Linked DNA regions of Homo sapiens: region 1 is linked to region 2. Evidence: fine-mapped expression QTL. A gene starts in region 2. The other region holds a variant in brackets. All regions are shown on one strand. Distances are from middle to middle.

Region 1 (9,600 bases), 71 kb after region 2:
ATGCTTTAGAGATGTGTTCTTGATACACATGGTTCCAGTTGATTCATTTAAACCATTATATATACCATAGTTAATCCATTCTCTTATTGATAGCCAGGTGGTTTTTCAGTTTTTTCTAAAGTAAATAAATGCTGAATTGAATACCTGTATGTACATATTTCCTTGTGCACATGTTACATATCCTTCAGGATATGGCTGTACCAATTTTTACTCCTACAAAAGAGTACAAGAGGAAGTTCCCATTCTTCTACATTCTTATCATCACTTGCTGGGTTAAACTTTTTAATTGTTGTCAATGTAATGGATGGGAATGGTATCTCATTGTTTTAATTTGCATTTCGCTGAATTTGATTGGAATTGAGCATCTTCTTATTGATTTGCACCCATTTGGATTTCTACGAAGAGCCTACTCCTATCCTTGGCCAATTTTCTATTGGGTCATTGTCTCTTTCTTATTAGTTAATATAATTTCTTTTTTAAAAAATTCTTTTTTTTTTAAGAGATGGTCTTGCTATGTTGTCCAGGCTCGATTTGAACCCCTGGGCTCAAGCGATCCTCCTGCTTCAGCCTCCTGAGTAGCAAAGACTACAGGCACACACCACCATGCCTGGTTGATTTGATTGTGAAACAGGGGAGTTCTCTGATCCCCCTCGCAGGACATGCGACAGGGGTGTGGCTTGCCTGTTTAGTCACCACCACTGCTCAAACCCCTGAGGGGAGGGGGAGAACGCAGACGGACAAGTGCAGGAGCCCAGTTGGGCACGTGTTACAGCGTGTCCTTTTAGCCCTGCCATCTGCGGACGACTTGATTGTTAACCAGCTTGACGGACATCTGCCTTTTCACAAGGGCAGAGGGAAGTGACAGCTTTTTGTATCCCGAGCTCTTGCCCAGCATCCCCGGAAGAATCAGGTCACACACAGGACTAAAGGATGAATGTGGGGTTTTACTGAGTGGTGGAGGTGGCTTTCAGTGGGATGGATGGGGAGCTGGAAGGGGGAATGGAGGGGAAAGATGATCTTCCCCTGGAGCCTGGCCATCCAGTGGCCCAACTCCCCTCTGGCTGCTCCCAGCCAAACTCCTCTCGGCGTTCAGACATTCCTCCTCTTTTCTCTACTGTGTCGTTCTGCCATTTGTCTGCTTGTGTCCTCATCTCACCTGCTCGTCTGCTTCTGGAGCCTGGGGTTCAGAGTTTACATGGGCACAGGATAGGGGAGCATGGCAGGCCAAAAGGCAACTTTTTGGGCACGAAAACAGAAATGCCTGTTTCCACTTAGCGCTGCAGATCTCCCGGCTTGAGGGTGGGGTCTTTGCCAGGGAACCACCCTCTTCTATCCACTATTCCCATCTCCTACCCGTATCAGTTGTATATATTCTGGACTGGTTACATGTATTTCCAAACATCTTCCCCTTGGGTATTCTTTGTCTTTTCATTTGTTTTTATGGAATATGTTGTTGAAGAGATTTTCTTTTTAATTTTAGTGTGTTAAATATACCATCTTTTCCTTTACAATTTAGGTCTTTTGTGTCAGTAAGGTTATAAATATACTCTCTTATGGTGTCTTATAAAAGTTTTAAAGTTTTTTTCTTACTAAGGTATGTAATTCACCTAGAGTTGACTTTCACGTAGGGCAGGAGCATTATTTGTTGAGAAGTCCCTGCCAGCAATGTGTCTCATCATCCCTGTTATGTGTGCAAATCTTCTCCAGGCTCTTCATTCCTTTCCCCTGATTGTCCTTTCCAGCACGAAAACCTCCATGCATTGATTACTATGGCTTTATAATAAATCTTGAATGTCAGGTAGGGAAAGTTGTCCTGCTTTTTTTTTTTTTCCTGCAGAGTTTTCTTGGCTCTTCTTGGTCCTTTGCTCTTCCACGTAAACTTTGGAATCAGCTTGCTGAATTTTAGTACATACTACTTTGCGGGTTTTGATCTAAATTGTATTTACTGCATAGAATATTTTAAAAATTGACATTTTTACCAAATAAGTCTTCCTAGGATTAAATACGTCTCCATTTATTTAGCTCTTCTTTCATGTCTTTTAATTAACTTTTTTTTAAATTAACTCAACTGCACACTTTATTCTAATTTCATTGTTTTTTCTCCCTAATGCCCTTTTCCTATTCCAGGATCCCATCCAGAACACTACACGACATTTAGTCATGTCTCCTTAGGCTTCTCTAGGCTGCGACAATTTCTCACCCTTTCCTTATTTTGATGACCTTGACAGTTTTGATGACCTTGACATTCTATGAGTTTGCATAGAATACCTTGCAATTTGGGTTTATCTGGTATTTTTCTCACGGTTAGACTGGAGTTACAGGATTTGGGGAAAAAGACCATGGCACATTATGGCGTATCAGGGATGCATGCCATCAGTGTGATTTATCAGGAGGTTAACCTTGATCATCTATCTGAAATTGTGTTTGCCAACCTTTTCCACTGTAAAGTTACTTTCTTCCCTCCCTTTCCATACTGTACTCTTTGGAAGCAAGTCACTAAATGTATCTCACATTTAAGGGGTAGAGATGCTCCACCTCCTTGGGGGAAGAGTCATTACATAAATTAGATGGAATTGATTTACTGCTCTCGGTAAACACAAATTCCTTACCATGGTTTCCAAGGTCTTTCCTAATCTGGCCCCTCCATATTCAGATGGGACTCTTCTCTCCTTGATCTCTTCTTTCCAGACATTTGGGGCTTTTTATTCTTTTAGTTCCTCAAAAGCACCACACTCTTTCTTCACTCTTAGCTTTCCTACCTCCTTACTTCCCACCCAGGACACTCCCCTGTCATTTTCCCAGTGACCAACTCCGACTCACTCTTCACATTTTGCCTAAATCTCACTTCTTCTGGAAAACTTTATTTAATTTCTGTTATGGACTAAATTGCATCCCCCCCAAAAATTCACATGTTGAAGCTATAACTCCTGGTATGACTGTATTTGTAGATAGGGCCTTTAAAGAAGTAACTAATCATTGCCCTAATCCAATATGACTAGTGTCCTTGTAAGAAGAGAAACACCAAATATATGCACGTACAGAGAGATGACCATGTGAGGGCACAGCGGGAAGGTGCCCATCTGCAAGCCAAGGAGAGAGGCCTCAGAAGAAACCAAACCTGCTCACACCCTGGTCTTAGATTTCTAAACTCCAGAACTCTAAGAAAATAAAGTTTTGTCATTTAAGCCAGCCAGTCTATTTTGTTACAGCAGCCCTAGCCGACTAATACAACCTCCCAAAGCTGGGTTAGATCCCTACACTTTGTAATTCTCTGTGTCTCATATTGCATACTTGAAATTACTGTTTAATATCTGTTTTCTCCACTGGACTATTAATACCATGAAAAGAATAATTCTTTGACTGTATTCTCTAGGCCTTACCAACACTCAACACATAGCAAGAGCCCAAGAAGTAAATGTACAGAATCTATACACATGTGGCTACATAAATTTAAATTAATTGAAACAAGCCGCATTTCAAACCTGGGCTGCAGCCACAAACACACAGAACCCTAAGCACTAGACCACAGGGTGGAGTTATAAGCCATATTTCAAATGCTCAATAATCATGTGGCTAGTTGCTACCATAGTGGACAGTGAGGATTATGGAACATTTTCATCATCACAGAAAGCTCTATTGGACAGCACTGGTATACATGATACCTGAATGAACTTTGAGTATGCATAAGTTAGCCAGGTTAAAAAAAAAGATGAAGAGGCAGTGGGAATGGCAAAGATCCAGTGCAGAGTGTGAAACACAGAGTATGTGTGGCGAAGTATCAGCAGTTTATTGCTGCTCAAGCGTGAGGTAGGGAGATATGAGAGAGGTAAGGACAAGGTCATGGGAGGACTTAAGTCCTGATGAGAGCTTGGGATTTATTATGACTGCAAAAGGAATCCAAGCAGAGAAGTGTCTGGGTCAGATTTGCATTTTAGATACATTACTCTGTGGGAAGTATAAGCCTGGAGACAGGAAAAACAATCAGGGGGTTGTTGACATAGTCTGGGTGAGAAGAACCAGAACAAAGGGAGGGCTGGAGAGGATGGCTCTCCAACCAAACTAGATGGCTAATTGGATGCAGGGTTATGAGTTGGGAGGAGTCCCAGATGACCTGTAAATTTCTGGATGGTGGTGTCACCAACTGAGACCAGGATGAAGGTGAGGGTAGGAGAAGCAGGTTTTATTTGGGAGGGGGAGGGCAAAGGGGAGGGAAAGAGATGATGCCTCAATTTTGGACACATTTAAGTTTATTTGTGGGATACAGTAGGTATGACAGTACCA[T/C]AGAGGCAGAGGCTCAGAAAAGAAGGCTAAGTGTCCATGTAGATGTGGGGGTCATGAACAAACAGGTGGCAGGTAAAGCTACATGTTTAGACCAGCTGAAGAGAAAGGTGGCAGTGGGCCAAGGCCAGAGCTCCATGGAACAGCATTCAGGGATAAGCATTATTCATGTATCATTTACGATGTCACCCAAGCTAGCTTTAAAACCACTTTATTCCTTGAACCCATACAATCTGCTACAAGCAGCAATTTCAGCATATTGCCTGTATTTACTATGTAAGGTCTGTTTGCTTGTTGGTTTGTTTGTTTCTATACTCAAGCAAGCTCCCTGAACAGGGACTGACAGGTTTGGAAATTCCTGAATGTGATCTGTGGGATCAGAGTACATTTCTTTGAGATCCAACCTGCCTGAACTTGGGAAAGGACTTTCTTGTCTAGAGAGAGAGAAGGGAATGATGATCATAAACCATCCATGTAATTTGATGGATCCTAAAGGAAAGCCATTTGATTTTGCCTCTGCAGCTCTAAAACAGAAATGGCTCTACTCTAAAACGGGAGGAATCTCACACTGATCAATGAGGTTCTTGACCCTTGAAGGGAACAGCTGGGTTCATTGTCAATGGGGAAACAGCAGCTGGTTTTGACTGGATTCCACATAGAAGGATACAAAATATGGAAGAAAACCGTCAGCCTGAATTCCTATCAGAATGTTAACAGTTTCTCTGATACCAATTAACAGCCAGAAAATACAGCCCTGAGGCTATAACTTGTTTCTCAATACCCTTCTCTTTAATTTCAATTACATTTTTTTCCTAAGAGTTATAAACCTGTCAAGCCACCCAGGAACTTAGAGCAATCATTTATCTACTCCACTTCTCTAAAGCAGAAATTAATTTATGATTTACTAGTACTTACAGATTTCATCCACATTTTTAAGAAATTTCTGCAAATCTTTCTCTTTATCAGCATCCATTGTGAACCGGAATCCCTAAGGGATGCAGCATAATGGTGAAATTAATAATAATAAAGCACTAAACAGAACGGTCAGGCTTATTAGCCTTCTAAAACTAAGAGCCAAGTGATTATTTTTATGACAGTTTTGTTTATGTCAATGAATAACAGCAGGGTGATCCCTTTCATTCCAACTGCTGTTTTAGGCCAAGAGGCACTCATTTACGTGCGGCAATGCTTCCAGAAAGCTTCCAGCCCTCCTTCCAGTGCAGAAAACGCTCTGCAAATAGTTCTTCCAAAGCCAACATCAACCCCGGCGATTTAGGGACCTGGCATGGAGATGAGAAGAGAGCAGATGACAGGTTGCCAAGGATAGAGAAATACACTAACACCTGACTTTGATCATGACAGGCTGGTCTAGTCAGAAGCTTAAATGTGGATGTGTGACAGGTAACAAACTTGGGGCAATTTGCATCTAAATGTCCATACTTGTTTAAAATCTGCCTTTGGCTTGTTTCTGAAGAGTGAAGAAAGGGTACAAATTGACTGAAGGGATTAGAACATAATGTTACCATGCTCACCAGCGTCTCTTCTGCTCTAGGTACCTCAGATATTATTTTACAGTTGTTTTTGTGCGAGAAGGCCCCGTGGTGTACCCAGCAGTACTCAGTGGTTCATCCACAGATCATAAAAATCATCGGGAAGATTGTTAAATATACAGCTTCCTCAGCCGTAGCCCGAGATTTCAAGTCAGTAAACCCGGGACATTGCCCAGACACGAATATAGATTTTAAACACTTTCCAGGTGATTCTCATTTATGGCCAGGTTTCATAGTAGTGTAACACGCTTCTAACACGTAATCTGCCACGAACAAACTACGAGTGATTTAATCGAGTCTCAGTGTCCTCATCTCCACCAGTTACAAGCTGTGTGATTCTGGCTAAATTCACAACCTCTCCGAGCCTCAGAGTCCTCACCCATACTATGGGAACAGTAAGAGAGAAACTACGAGGACTATTCTGGGGACTGATGTAAAGCACCAGGCACGCGACGAGTCCTCACCGTGAAGCACCCTTACCTATATAAAACAGGGGGTGGGGTTGCGGCTTAACTGAATAATCGCTAGGGTTTCTTCCAGGTCAAATCTTTTCAACTCCCACGGAACAGAGGCCTAGTCCAGTGAATTAATCTGCCCAACGGTATGAAGGTTAGAAGGCAGGCGCGCGGGTGCATGGACAGGAGACAACCTCTGTCTCCCAGGGCATGGATCTCAGGGTCCTCACTGCCTGGCCAGTGCCCCCCTACGCTAGGGTGAGAGGGCCAGAGCCAGGTGATGGCGAAGCGGCGCCGCGCTCAGTGCTTCACTCGGTAGGGCTGCGGCAGCGGGGACCTGTGCCCGAGCCCCGCGCGGAGCCTGCCCCAGACGCGCGCTGCCCGCCGGGCGCAAAGAGGCCAGGCCGCACGCACTGTTGCCCAGCAACCGCTCCCAGGCGTCCGCAAGTCCCGGGCCCTCCATGCAGGTCCCAGACCGCAGCCGTCCCAGACCGCAGCCAAGACCTTCCCATGCTCTGGGGCCCAAAGCAGCGTCCTCTGCTCGGCTCTGAAGGCCAGTGCAGGACCAGCTCCCAGGGGGGATTCCGGGGTACCCCGCGGCACCGACCTGATTCGCCCAGCTTTGGACAGGAAATGGCGCAGTGACCTGCCTGGGCTGGGGCGGGGCCAGGAGCCAGGGGCCCGGGGCGGGACCAAGGGCGGGGCCAGGAGCCAGGGCCCGGGGCGGGACCAAGGACGGGGTCAAAAGCCAGGAGGCGGGACAGGGGGCGGGCATGGACACGCGATCAGATTCGCTACCGCAGAGCTCTAGCTCCGGAGCGCGCCAAGTTGAAGGCCAAAGTCGAGGTTGGGATGCCCGATGCCTGGCGCGGGGAGACGGAGGAAGCAAAGTGCTGGTAACTAAAGCAGCGCCTGCTGCTCGCCTTTTTTCTACTGAAGAAGGGTTGTCTCACTCCCGTTAGCTTAATATCCTTGCCCAAAATGTAAAGTCTCCAGTGTACTTGTGAATCCGGTTTTGTTCATTGATAAATGTGTGAGTTAGAAGACTCACACATTTATCCTTAGGAAAGTTATTTGAGTAACCTTTTTAATCCTCAGTTTTCTCACCTGTGAAATGGAGAAATGGCACTTTCTCATAAGGTTTATGGTTAAAGTGCTGTAACCGCCCAATAGGTTCACCTTGCTCACTGCCTAAACAGAGTCGATTTATCAAGACAGGGGAATTGCAATAGAGAAAGAGTAATTCACACAAAGCTGGCTGTGAGGGAGACCGGAGTTTTATTATTACTCAAATCAGTCTCCCTAGCTTTCAGGGATCAGAGTTTTTAAGGATAATTTGGTGGGTAGGGGTCAGTGAGTCGGGAGTGCTGATTGGTAGGCTAGGAGATGAACTCACAGGGAGTCAAAGCTGTCCTCTTGTGCTGAGTCAGTTGCCAGGTGGGGGTCATAAGACCAGATGAGCCAGTTTATTCATCTGGGTGGTGCCAGCTGATCCATCGAGTGCAGTGTCTGTGAAATATCTTAAGCACTGATCTTAGGTTTTACAATAGTTGATGTTATCCCCAGGAGCAATTTGAGGTTTAGAATCTTGCAGCCTCTAGCTGCATGACTCCTAAACCATAATTTCTAATTTTGTGGCTAATTTGTTAGTCCTGAAAAGGCAGTCTAGTTCCTGGGCAAGAAGGGGGTTTGTTTGGGAAAGGGCTGGTATTGTCTTTGTTTCAAAGCTACACTATAAACTAAGTTCCCCCCAAAGTTAGTTTGGCCTATGCCTAGGAATGAACAAAGACAGCTTGGAGATGAGAAGCAAGATGGAGTCGGTTAGGTCAGATCCCTTTCACCATCTCAGTTATAATTTTGCAATGGTGGTTTCAGTGCCTGGTACCTAGTCAGTAGGAACAGGTGGCACGTGACATCCGGGGAATCATAGGGTTTAGAACAGAATGAGCTAATAGGCACATTCATTCATGCCCCAAATACATGCACACAGCCCTAAAGAAATTTCAGTCTGTTTTTCTAAACAAAATCTCAGAGTATTATGTGCAGGGTTACCAATGGAAAAAAAGCAGGTTTAGGGGAAACTTGAGCTTAAGTTCACGGTCAGAAACACCCGGAACTTCTTGGCAAATGAGTGCTTTATGGAAACCTGTTTGGCAGGGAACAAGGAGCCCCTAGAGATGGAATTCGCCAGAGGGGAGAGGGATCCAGGCATGGCCAGCTAGCTCTAGTGTTGATTCCAAGTACAGCCTGTTGACTCTCTTGTGGCCTAGGCCCCATAGGATGCATGCCTGTGTCCTGTAGAGAACAGAAGAGCTGTTTGGCTGAAGTCTCTATGATGCATTGGTACACATACCATCCTGCTTGGGTACCCCTCTAATGCAGTATAACACAAAGGGGCCACGGATGTTCTGCTCCTCTTGGCAGCTGAATGGGTACAGCATCAGCAGAGTGAGTCTTTTGGCTCATCAACTGCAGCAGGAGACCTGGGGATCCCAGCAGGACATGGTCACAGTGGCTGTCCCAAGGGAATGAGGTGCCTCAGGAGAAGTAGCAGACAGTGTAGGTGCCTGGCAGGAGCAAGGACGTTGATGAGCACAGGCTAGGCACACCATAGGGATCCTCAGAAAGATATAGGGTACTTCACAGTGACCTTCCAGCCTGTGGGAATTGATGGAGACAAGAACCAGTGATGTTTTGGTTATCACCATTAGTATCACCCCATTTTCCTCTTAGGCCTGTGAGGCCTTGAATACATGAAGGCTATATGCCTATGGTCCCCAACCTCAGGGTGTTTCTTATCACATTGAGGCCAATAGTTCCAAATCACTTACTTCCTATCCTACTACTCTTTTCACTAAACTCCTTTCCTAGGTTCCAGAGGTATCTGCCCACAACTGACTGTACCACCTAACCATTCACTCACACATTTGTTCAGCTAGTGTGAGTGGCCTGTAGTGTGCTAGATGCAGCGGAAGGCCCCTGGGGTGCACTTGACAAATAGTCATCACATGCTAAGTGGTTAAGAGCTGGGGCTCTGGAGCCATTTTGCTGGGTTCAAATCTCACATCTCCACCTATTAGCATTCATTAAAATGTCTTGAAGCACCTACTATGCACCTTCTATTGTGCTATGTACTGGGGATCATATTCCTCCTTTTTTATTACTAACACTACTGAAACCTTCCTTACAAACTTTATAAAATTAATCAGGGAAGCAGGGAAGGGGAGAAATAAAATAAGCCCAGCTTGCAGCACATTCAGCATGAACCATGAGGTCAGCTTGTTCTCTGGCCTGCTTCTTCATAATTATTTAGTGTC
Region 2 (9,600 bases):
ACTGCCCTGATTTCAAATCCCAGTTTCACCCGTTATTATCTGTATGACCTTGGGCAAGGGAATCCTCTGGGCCTCAGTTTCTAAACTAAAAACTGGGAATAATTGTAACTACCTTGCACAGTTCTTTCATAGCTTCCTACCCAGAAGTCTTGAGAGCATTTACTGCTGTCTCTCCTCTTCATCATCTTGCTGCACCCACTTTTGTCTAGTTTCTGGTACCTGCACTCCCCTGAACACCTGTGGCTAAGGTCACCAACAGCCTCTATGTTGCTATATCTAACCAATAATTTTCAGTTCTCAGTGTATAGTTCAGATCTCTGACTCTTTTTCTTGAAACTTCGTTACTTGAGCCACGTGTCAACATTCTCCTGCTTTTCTCCTACTTGTCTGGTCACTTCCTCTCTGTTTTCTTTGCAGGCTCATATCCTGTTACTTGACCACGGGGCTTAGTCCAAGCCCTTCTTCTCTGCTCTTCTCCCTCTATAATCTTTCTATAGTCAACCTCATCATCTCCAATTGGATATTCAATACCAAATGTGTCTGAAGCTAACCTCCTGATTTTCCCCTGAAACCTGCTCTTCCTTTAGTTTTCATCATTTCAGTGAATGGGGCCTCTGTCCTTCTAGTCCTCAGAATAGGACCCTGGTGTCATCTTCGACTCCTTTCTTCCTCTCACTTCCCACAGCCAAGTCTTCGCAAATCCTGCCAGCACCACCTTCAAAATACTGTCGAGCAACAAGCTGACCACTTCTCACCACCTCTCCCCCAAGGTGCATCTCAGCCCAAGCCTCCTAATTGGACTCTGTTTCTCCCGCTTCCTCTCCACAATCTATTCTCAACCCAGCAGCCAAAGTCATATTTTAAAATCTAAGTCACAACATGTCACTGCCCTTCTCCAATGGCTCTCCTCATTCACAGTAAAAGCCAAAGTTCTTTCATGGCTGAGAAAGTCCTACAAGATTTGTCCCCAATGCCAGGCATAGCTTGCTGACCTCCTTTCCTAATCACCCTCCTCTCATTGTGCCCCTGGCACACGGGCTTCCCACTGTTCCTCCACCATGCCCAGTGTGGTCCCACCTCAGGACCTTTGCACCTGTTGTTCTCTCTGCCTAGAACACTCCTCCCTAACAGAGCCACATGGATTACCCCTTCATTTCCTTCAAATCTCTACTCAAATGGTACCTAATTAGTATGGATTTCACAGAGAAGTCTACATAAAAAAGCAACCCCATTCCAACTCTTATATTCCCCATACACAGAGGGCCCTGGCATTAATATTTTTAGACCAACCCATTTCTTGGAAAATCAGACTTCTCAACCCTTCTTAGATATTTTAATCAAGAACTGTCAGGTGGTCATGAGTGCTATAGCTAAAAAGTTTATTATTCATTTGCTATTTATTTTGTCTTCCTCCTTTAGACTATAAGCTTCATGAGGGCAAGGACTTTGTTTTTTTCACGTAGTGCTTGGAATGAATGCATCTCCTCCATGCCTTTTTTTTGCTTTGTTTTTTTTTTTTTTTGAGACCAAGTCTCACTTTTGTTGCCCAGGCTGGAGTGCAATGGCATGATCTTGGCTCACTGCAACCTCTGCCTCCTGGGTTCAAGCAATTCTCCTATCTCAACCTCCTGAGTAGCTGGGACTACAGGTGCCCACCACCACGCCCAGCTAATTTATGTATTTTTAGTAGAGATGGAGTTTCACCATATTGGTCAGGCTGGTCTTGCCTGACCTCAGGTGATCCACCAGCCTTGGCCTCTCAAAGTGCTGGGATTACAAGCGTGAGCCACCAGGCCCAGCCTGATGCCCTAGTTTTAATGACCACTTATAACAAATGACTCCCAAGTTTTAATATTGTTAGCACCAACCTTTACTCTGATGTCCATGACAACTCTTCTTGGTTGTTTAAAGGCATCTGAAACTCAACAGGTACAAAGCTGAACTCATGATCTTCCTCTCCAAGTCTAGGCCTCTTTTCATAGTCTCTCCATTAATTGTCAACACTGCCATTCAATAAATATTTATTGAACACCAACTCTGTGCCAGGCACAGGAGACAGAGCTGTGACCAAAACAGACACTCTCATGGAGTGGACATTTTAGTGGATCCTCCATTCCTTTGGGCAAGCCAGACATCAAGTTAGCTTTAATACCCCTCTTCCTCATCGTGATCCTCCCCATGACTAATCCAGCACCAAGTCGGGTGGATTTTTACCTTCTAAATATGGCTTGACCCATTCCTTTCCTATCTCCACTACCAACACTCCACTCTAGCCCCTATTATCCGTCTCTCATCAGAATGAAGATAACAATCTCCTAACTTAACCAGAATCCACTCTACCCCTCCCAATGCATTCTCCATACTGCAATTCTGATTAATCCCTCCCATGGTCACCACCGCTACCTGGTTGTAAATGCTCAGTGGTTTTCCACTGCTCTTTTACTCTCCCAACTCCAGCCATCATGGCCTTTTCCCATCTTTGTACTTACCATGCCCCTCTTGCCACAGATTCTTTGCACACTCTGTTGTCTGTTCTTGGAAAACTTTCTCCTCCTCACCTACTTAACTTATACTCATTCTTCACATTTCAGCTGTAGTGTAACTTCTTCAAGGAAGCCTTTTCTGATATCAGTCAAACTTTCTGTTAATGAGCTCTCCTAGAGCCACAAATCTCCCCTTCTTAAGCTTCTCACAGTAGCACATTTACATTTACATGTGGGGTTATCTGGTTAATGTCTTCCTCCCCCTAGGCTGCAATCTCCCGGAGAGAAAGGACACATCTGTTGCATTCATCGTTAATCCCAGGGTGTAGAACAGTGCCTGACACATAGTAGAAGAGCAGTAAGCATTTGTCAAGTGGATGAATGAATGAATAGCTGGAAAGAGGATCTAGTAAAGTAATGCACGTAAAGCTCCTAGTATAGTAATCCATACATACTAAGTCTTAATTACCATTAATTATCTTACCCCCTCCACCCAGGGAATTCCCAGAACTTGGGAAGGGAAAGTGGCAGGAGTTAGCATCAATGTCTCACAGTGTAATCATGTCACTGCCATCTGTTTCCTTTCGTTCTATATTCAAAAGGCTATAAATGATTTAGACAAATCCTAGCATACTCTGACCCTCCTCCAAAACCAACAGGCAGATGTTGAGGGAGGAAGGTGAGTGGGCCTTAGGCGATCTTATTTTTCCTCTCCTCATAAGGTGGGGGAAGGCCTGGGAACTGAGTGTGTGGCACCTGAGGCTGTATCTTAAGAGTTTGCATGGTAATCCTAGAGAACCACAGATAGCATCCAAGCCAGATGCCAGTCAGAGAGACCCCCGTCCCGGACTCTCTAATTGATGTCCCAGAGCCTTGGGAGGAGGACATGGTTATCATGCTCAGGTTTAACATCCCGAGTGTCTTCTTCATGGCTGCAAGGTGCAAGCACACAGCTAGTATATGCAACTCCAGTGGGAATGAGACTGGATTCCAAATCAGTGGGAAGACAGAGAATAATGGAAACGTAGGAAAGAGGTAGGAAGAGAAAAATAGGGGCATGTCAAGGCGTCGCTGTAGTGCGCATGACAGCAAGGGACAAAAACAAAAACAGAGATGAGAGAACTCCAGACTTGACCCTCCAAGGGCCTGGACAGGCCATCAGGCCGGGCAGTCTCCATCCCCTGACCTCCTCAGCCTGCACTGATTGGGAGGGGCCTCCTCCCTCCCGCCACCGTGGGAAGAGAGAACATGATTCCCTGCAGATCTGAGCAAAGTGCCACAGCCTCCCAGGATGCTCAGCCCTGCCCTGAGAGCTGGGGTGGGTAGGAGGATGGCAGAGAGCGGTCAAGAGCAGTTATTGCCACAGGACACCGGGGGAAGAAGGCGCTGGAGAGAAGGATGGAAGCAGGCAGGACAAGTTCGGAAGGTCAGATGGGATAAAGGCGTCTTTGGTAGGTAGTTCCCGCTTGCCTTTGACCTCTGTTGAGTCTACAAACAGGTATTATGTGCCAACTCTATTTTGGTTAGGGAGACAGGTATGGGTGTGCCTGGGAGGCTCAGGCTACTGGGTGGAATTCAGAAATACCGCGGGGGACAGTCCTCAGCCCCAAACTCAGCCCACTCCTTCCTCGCAAGCTCCCTGGGCCCAAAGCTTGCCGGGCCTCAGTTTCTCCTCCGAGAAAGGGGAGGGCGAGGCTGGCAGTACCTGGCGGCGTCGGGTGGAAGGCAGGGGGCGCACTTGATGGCGTACTCCGTCCGCCAGCGCCTGTGCCGCGCCTGGAACACCTGGCTGAAGCCGCCGCTGGCCACTAGGCGCCAGTCGCCCTCGAAGTCGTCGCGGGTGAAGACGGGGAGGCTGCCCAGCCGCAGCTCGGTGGGGTCGGCAGCCATTGCCCCTCTCTTCCTGTCCCCGCGCCGCGCACTCCCCGCTGTGGCTGCTGCCTGGGTGGCCGAAGGAGCCGCCGCTTCCTGCTCCTCGGGTCCGGGAGAGGGGAATGGGGAGACGAGCCGGCCCTGCCTCCTTCCCCGCCCAAGAGGAGCCGCTCCTGCCCCGCAAAGGTGGGGAAATCCCAGACATGAGCCCTGAGGCCCCAGCAGGGATGGAGCGACCTGGGCCTGGGGAAGAGGGTATGTCCCTCCGAAGCCCTCGCATTTCCCCTGTCTCAGCCTTTGATTTTCCCCAGTTCCCCCTAGGGAGGGATGCTGGGAGAAGGTGTCCCGAAGCTGGAAGAAGTCCAGCCTGAGAAGTTGGATCCAGTTTATTTAGGCCCAGCGCTAAGTGAAATCGGTTTATGCATTCCTTCAGTGCATTCAAGGTTTTATGGTTTATGAAGGATTCAGGCCTGGACCCCTGCCCCTATCCAGCAAGTATGGGGCTCAAACAATTTTAATGGGGATTTTCTGGTCTGAATCTGTTGGTCTGACTGGTTTCATGTTTCCTTTGTTCTTGTTGGGGTTTTGTTTGTTTGTTTGTTAGCCAGCCTTGGTGTGCTATAGGTTACCAAGGAGGGGTCAGCAGGGACAGAGTTGCGGGGGAGGCTGGGCTCCTGTCTGCAGGGGACTCCCTTCCTGGGCTGCGCTCTATCCAACCTCAGAGGGATGGACCCCAGCCTCGGGGTGGCCACGGGGGAGGTGGCCTCCTTGGCGCAGTTACTAGGGGCAGTTTGTTGCCAGGGATGAGAGGAGGCTCTAGCTGGAGCCTGACCAGTGCTGAGCTTGGAGGTTCCCCTGGGTCCTGGGTCCATGGGATTGCCCTCTCACCTTGGAGACCCTCAGAGCAGGGAAAATGACAAGTGCTTGAACAGACAGGTCTCCCCAGGGGCACTGACCAAGTGGGCCATTGCCCAGAGACAGGCATACCTGGAGGAACTGTGGCCACGGAGTGCAGAGTCAGCCACTATTTGCCTACAGCTGAGTAAGTCCACAAGGAGCCCTCAGAGTGATCACTGTTAGGTTTGAGGAGCCTACCTACCAGACAAGGAAGTGCCTTGCCTTCAGCCCAAACCTGCAGAGCCCCTCGTCCATGCCACAAGCCCACCAGACTCCCAGGGAACAGTGTAGGCATGATAGGCAAACAGAGACTCCCTGTGGAAGCTGGAGAACTTGCTCCCTCTGTAACAACTTACCTGCAACTTCCAGGATGAATTCTGGCAAGCAGATTAAGGATCAAAGATTGGGCCTGGAGACAGTTGTCATAGAAACTAGTGATAGCCACTACTAATTGAACACTCACTTTGTTCCAGGATCAGTGACTATTTCAGTTACTGCATTGCTTTACATATATTATCCTGTTTATCTTGCAACAATGTTATGAGGTCAACATCTTCTATTCACAGATGAGGAAACTGGCTTCAAGACAATAAGTAATCAATGGACACATAGCTAGTAAGTGGTAGTTGATATTCAAACTCAAGTCTCTTAGTTTCTATGGAAATGGTTGGCCAGGGGAGGATCAGGGAGTAGCCTTTTATGAATACAAAAAAGGAAGAGAGAGAGTCATGCTCCCTGGAAGAGGGTGGAGATGATGGAAACTGCATCAGGAGCAGGACGTATCCCCCAAACATATGTCAGAGGGAGGCCCCCAGCTTGCTTTGGCTGGAGCAAGACAGGGCATAACAGAACCCATTGTCTCTGGAGTAGCCCTGCCTGCCCAAGTTTAAAGCCTCTGCCAGAGAAGTTTGGAAGGTGATAAAGGACATTGTCATCAGGGAGACCAGGAGGTCAAGAGGATGTTTCATACCTTCTACTGGGAGGGTGAACATGGAGACTGGGAAGGTGACCAGCCACCCAGCTCTGCGGAAGTTTGACTGAGGCCCGATCTTTGACATTCAGCGAGACCTATCTCAGCTCCTGGAGGAAATACCAAGGGTGAATGGCCTGAGTCATTTCAGCAGTTCCCCTTGATCCACTTATACCTGAAGTGGCTCTCCAGGGAGAGGAAGTAACCAGAAGCTGCCATTGTCTGCCTGCAGAGACTGTCACAGGAATACTGAAGAAAGCATCATTCCTAGAAGAGGGGACACCCAGGGCTCAAGGCATGTTGCCAGAATCCCGAACAAAATACCTCTGAATTTCTCACAGGGGTGGAGGTGGAGGAACTGCAGGGTCAGGGCGTATTACTGCTGACCCACCTGTTGAAACTCTCTGCTGTGGGTTCAAGCACCCCTGAGGCTTCTGAGGAGTCAGTCAAAATAGATACATTCATTGACCCAGAGGGACTGGATCATTTGACTGGGCTTGTCCTGCTCCTTACAGCTGTCTAACATGGGCTAGGGCAAAGGCCTAGTAGTCTTTGGATAAGCTCTGGGAGAAGTTGTAAGTGGAGGGACCCTTTCTGAGTATAAGGTCACAGAGGCAAAGAACTCCTGGATCTCTCATTAAAAGTGGGGTGAGGTATAGGGATTTGCAAAAGAGTAAAGTCAACTCAGAGGCTGCTGGTTTCTTTCCAGTGGTCTGAGTGCAGAAGTCCCTAGGTCCTGGCTGGTTGGGAAGTCAGCAGCCAGTGTGTGGAGGGGAGAGAGCTGGGGGGTTGGGAGGGAAACTCTACCTTTACCCATATCTACCTACAAATGGGAATGGATAATGAAGTGGTTATAGTCCAATTATGACCCCCACCCACCAGAAGGGGCAAGGAACAGGTTCTAGCTATAGAAGTTTTACCCCAAAATGCTCTGAGTCCTTCCAACTAACCTCTATCAGTGCATTTTGTTTGGGCAGATTGAAGATGGAAGTGTTCTGGATTTGGAGTTATTAAATGAATTTTGTGTGTATGTGTGATTGTCTTTGGGGAACCTAAGATTTTTAGCCTGCTCCTCCCAGACAAGTGAGCTGGTACAGGAGCTCTGCAATACTTTAGAAGATGCTGAAATCTGATGTGAGCCTTTCCCCAAACCGGAATGACAAGCTATTTGCATATAGGGAAGTTTCCCAGTCTGCCCCTGTTCTCCACCCTGCAAACATGTCACGGAGAACCCTGGACAGGTTCTGGCAGGCCCCAGCCTCTGGTAGCTTGTGTACTGAGGTTGGTCAGGATAAAGGAATGTATGCAGGAAAGTGGAACATCTGTTCAGGAAGCAGGACTCCCAGAGTGAAAGGGATTGAATGAGGCAATAGGAACAGGGTTTAAATGTGGGAGTGAGTCAGTCAGTCAGACCCGCATTTAAACCCTGGCTTCTTTCTATCACTTAGCATTTGTTTAACCTTGGTCACATTATCAAATCTTTCTGGGTTTCTCCATCTGTAAAATAGATGATAATCATAATAACCATTCCAAAACATTGCTATAAGAATTATAACCTTTAAAAATATACCTAGTATATTAGTATAATATTATACTAATATAACATAAAAATACAATATAATATCATATTAGTTTAATATACCTAGGATATTTTTAAAGGTTATAATTCTTACAGCAACCTTTTGGAATGGTTATTATGATTATCATCCATAAAATATATCTAAATACTAGGTATATTTTTAAAGGTTACATTCCTTAGGTATATACTAGGAATACTCCTAGGCAAAAAATATGAACCAGCTGATACTTCACACCTGAAAAATTAACTCAAAATGAATCATGGACTTAAATATTAAATGTAAACTTATAAAAATTTTAGGAAAAAAAAAGGAGAAAATATTCTGGACCTAGGATTAGATGAAAAGTTCTTAGGCCGAATCCCACAGGCACAATCCATAAAAGGGAAAATTGATAAACTGAACCTCATCAAAATGAAAAACTCTCACTCAGTGAAAGACCTGGTGAAGGTGAAGAGAAGAGTGCAGATGGGGAGAAAATGTTTGTAAAGCACATATTTGACAAAGTGCTGGTTCATAGAGTATATAAGGAGGTCTTCAAACTCAATGCTAAAAAAGCATCAAATTAGAAAATGGGAAAATACATTTCTCTGAAGAGAATATACAGATGACAAATAAGTTCTTGAAAAAATGTTTAATATCATGAGCCACTAAGCAATGCAAGTAAGATATCACTAACTACCTATCAGAATGGCTAAAAATAAAACTGAAAAGATAGTGGCAACGCCAAATGCTGATGAGGATGTAGAGTAATGGGATCACTCATACGCTGGTGGAAATGTAAAATGGTATGGCAATTCTAGAAAAGAATTTGGCCATTTCTTATAAGACTAAACATATGATTACCATACAACCCAGCAATTGCACTCTTGGGAATCTATCCCAGAGAAATGAAAACAGTGTTCACACAAAAATCTGTATATGAATGCTCATTGCAGCTTTATTTGCAATAGCTAAAATCTGGAAACCGCTCAGATGTCCTTCAACCAATGAATGGCTAAACACACCATAGTGCTGTATTATGGAATAGGACTCAGCAACTACTGATATACACAGCCACTTGGATGAGGCCCCAGAGAATTCTATTGAGTGAACAAAGCCAATCATAAAAGGTTACATACTGTATGACTCCATTTATATTGCATTCTTAAAATGACAAAATTATAGAGATGGAGAACAGATTAGTGGTTGTCAGAGGTGAGATTGGGGGAGAGGCAGGTGGGTGTAGCTGTAAAAGGTTAGTGCAAAGGAACCTTGTGATGAAACTATTCTGTATCTTAACTGTGGTGGTGGCCACATGAATCAATGCATGTGACAAAATTCCATCAAATTAAATGCACACACAGATGCACACACACACACAAATGAGTGCATGTAAAACTGACGGCACCTGTGTAAGGACTATGGATTGTATCACTGATTTCCTGGTTGTAATGTTGTGCTATAGTGACATAAGATGTTACCTTTGGGGGAAACTGGGTGAGGGTATCTCTGCATAAGTTCTTAAAATTGTGTGCTTATCTGTAATTATCTCCAAGCAGAACATTTAAAAAATACAAATAAAGCCCCCTTCTTCTCTTCTTCCTCCTCCTCCTTTTCCTCCTCCTCCTTTTCCTCCTCCTACTTCTCCTTCCCCCTTCTATTTCTCGTTCTTGTCCTTATTACTAGGTAATGTTATATTCTTGGAAGGAAAATATTCCCATAATAGGAGAAAGGCAGTAATCTAACATTTACCACAGAATGCCTTAAGGAACACAGCTGGCCCCCTGTGGACACGTAGAAACCCCAAGGAGAAAGAGAA

Evidence for each region. PIP is the estimated chance that this variant, and not a neighbour inherited with it, causes the effect.
Region 1: its variant is fine-mapped to the expression of ANKK1 in whole blood (TOPMed, PIP above 0.99). The same link has a PIP of 0.9 or more in blood mononuclear cells.

Annotation. Positions count from the first base shown.
Region 1 is chr11:113,311,909-113,321,508 of GRCh38, reverse strand. TTC12 (tetratricopeptide repeat domain 12) reads right to left here and starts at 6,926. Exons shown (of 22, transcript NM_017868.4): 1 at 6,891-6,926; 2 at 5,194-5,266. The coding sequence starts at 5,251. TTC12-DT (TTC12 divergent transcript) reads left to right here and starts at 7,053. Exons shown (of 5, transcript NR_199709.1): 1 at 7,053-7,179. RefSeq lists silencers at 6,556-6,655, 6,548-6,842, 6,866-7,115. The variant T/C (reference allele first, on the strand shown) is at 4,282.
Region 2 is chr11:113,382,658-113,392,257 of GRCh38, reverse strand. It overlaps ANKK1 (ankyrin repeat and kinase domain containing 1), which reads right to left and starts at 4,479. Exons shown (of 8, transcript NM_178510.2): 1 at 4,189-4,479. The coding sequence starts at 4,373.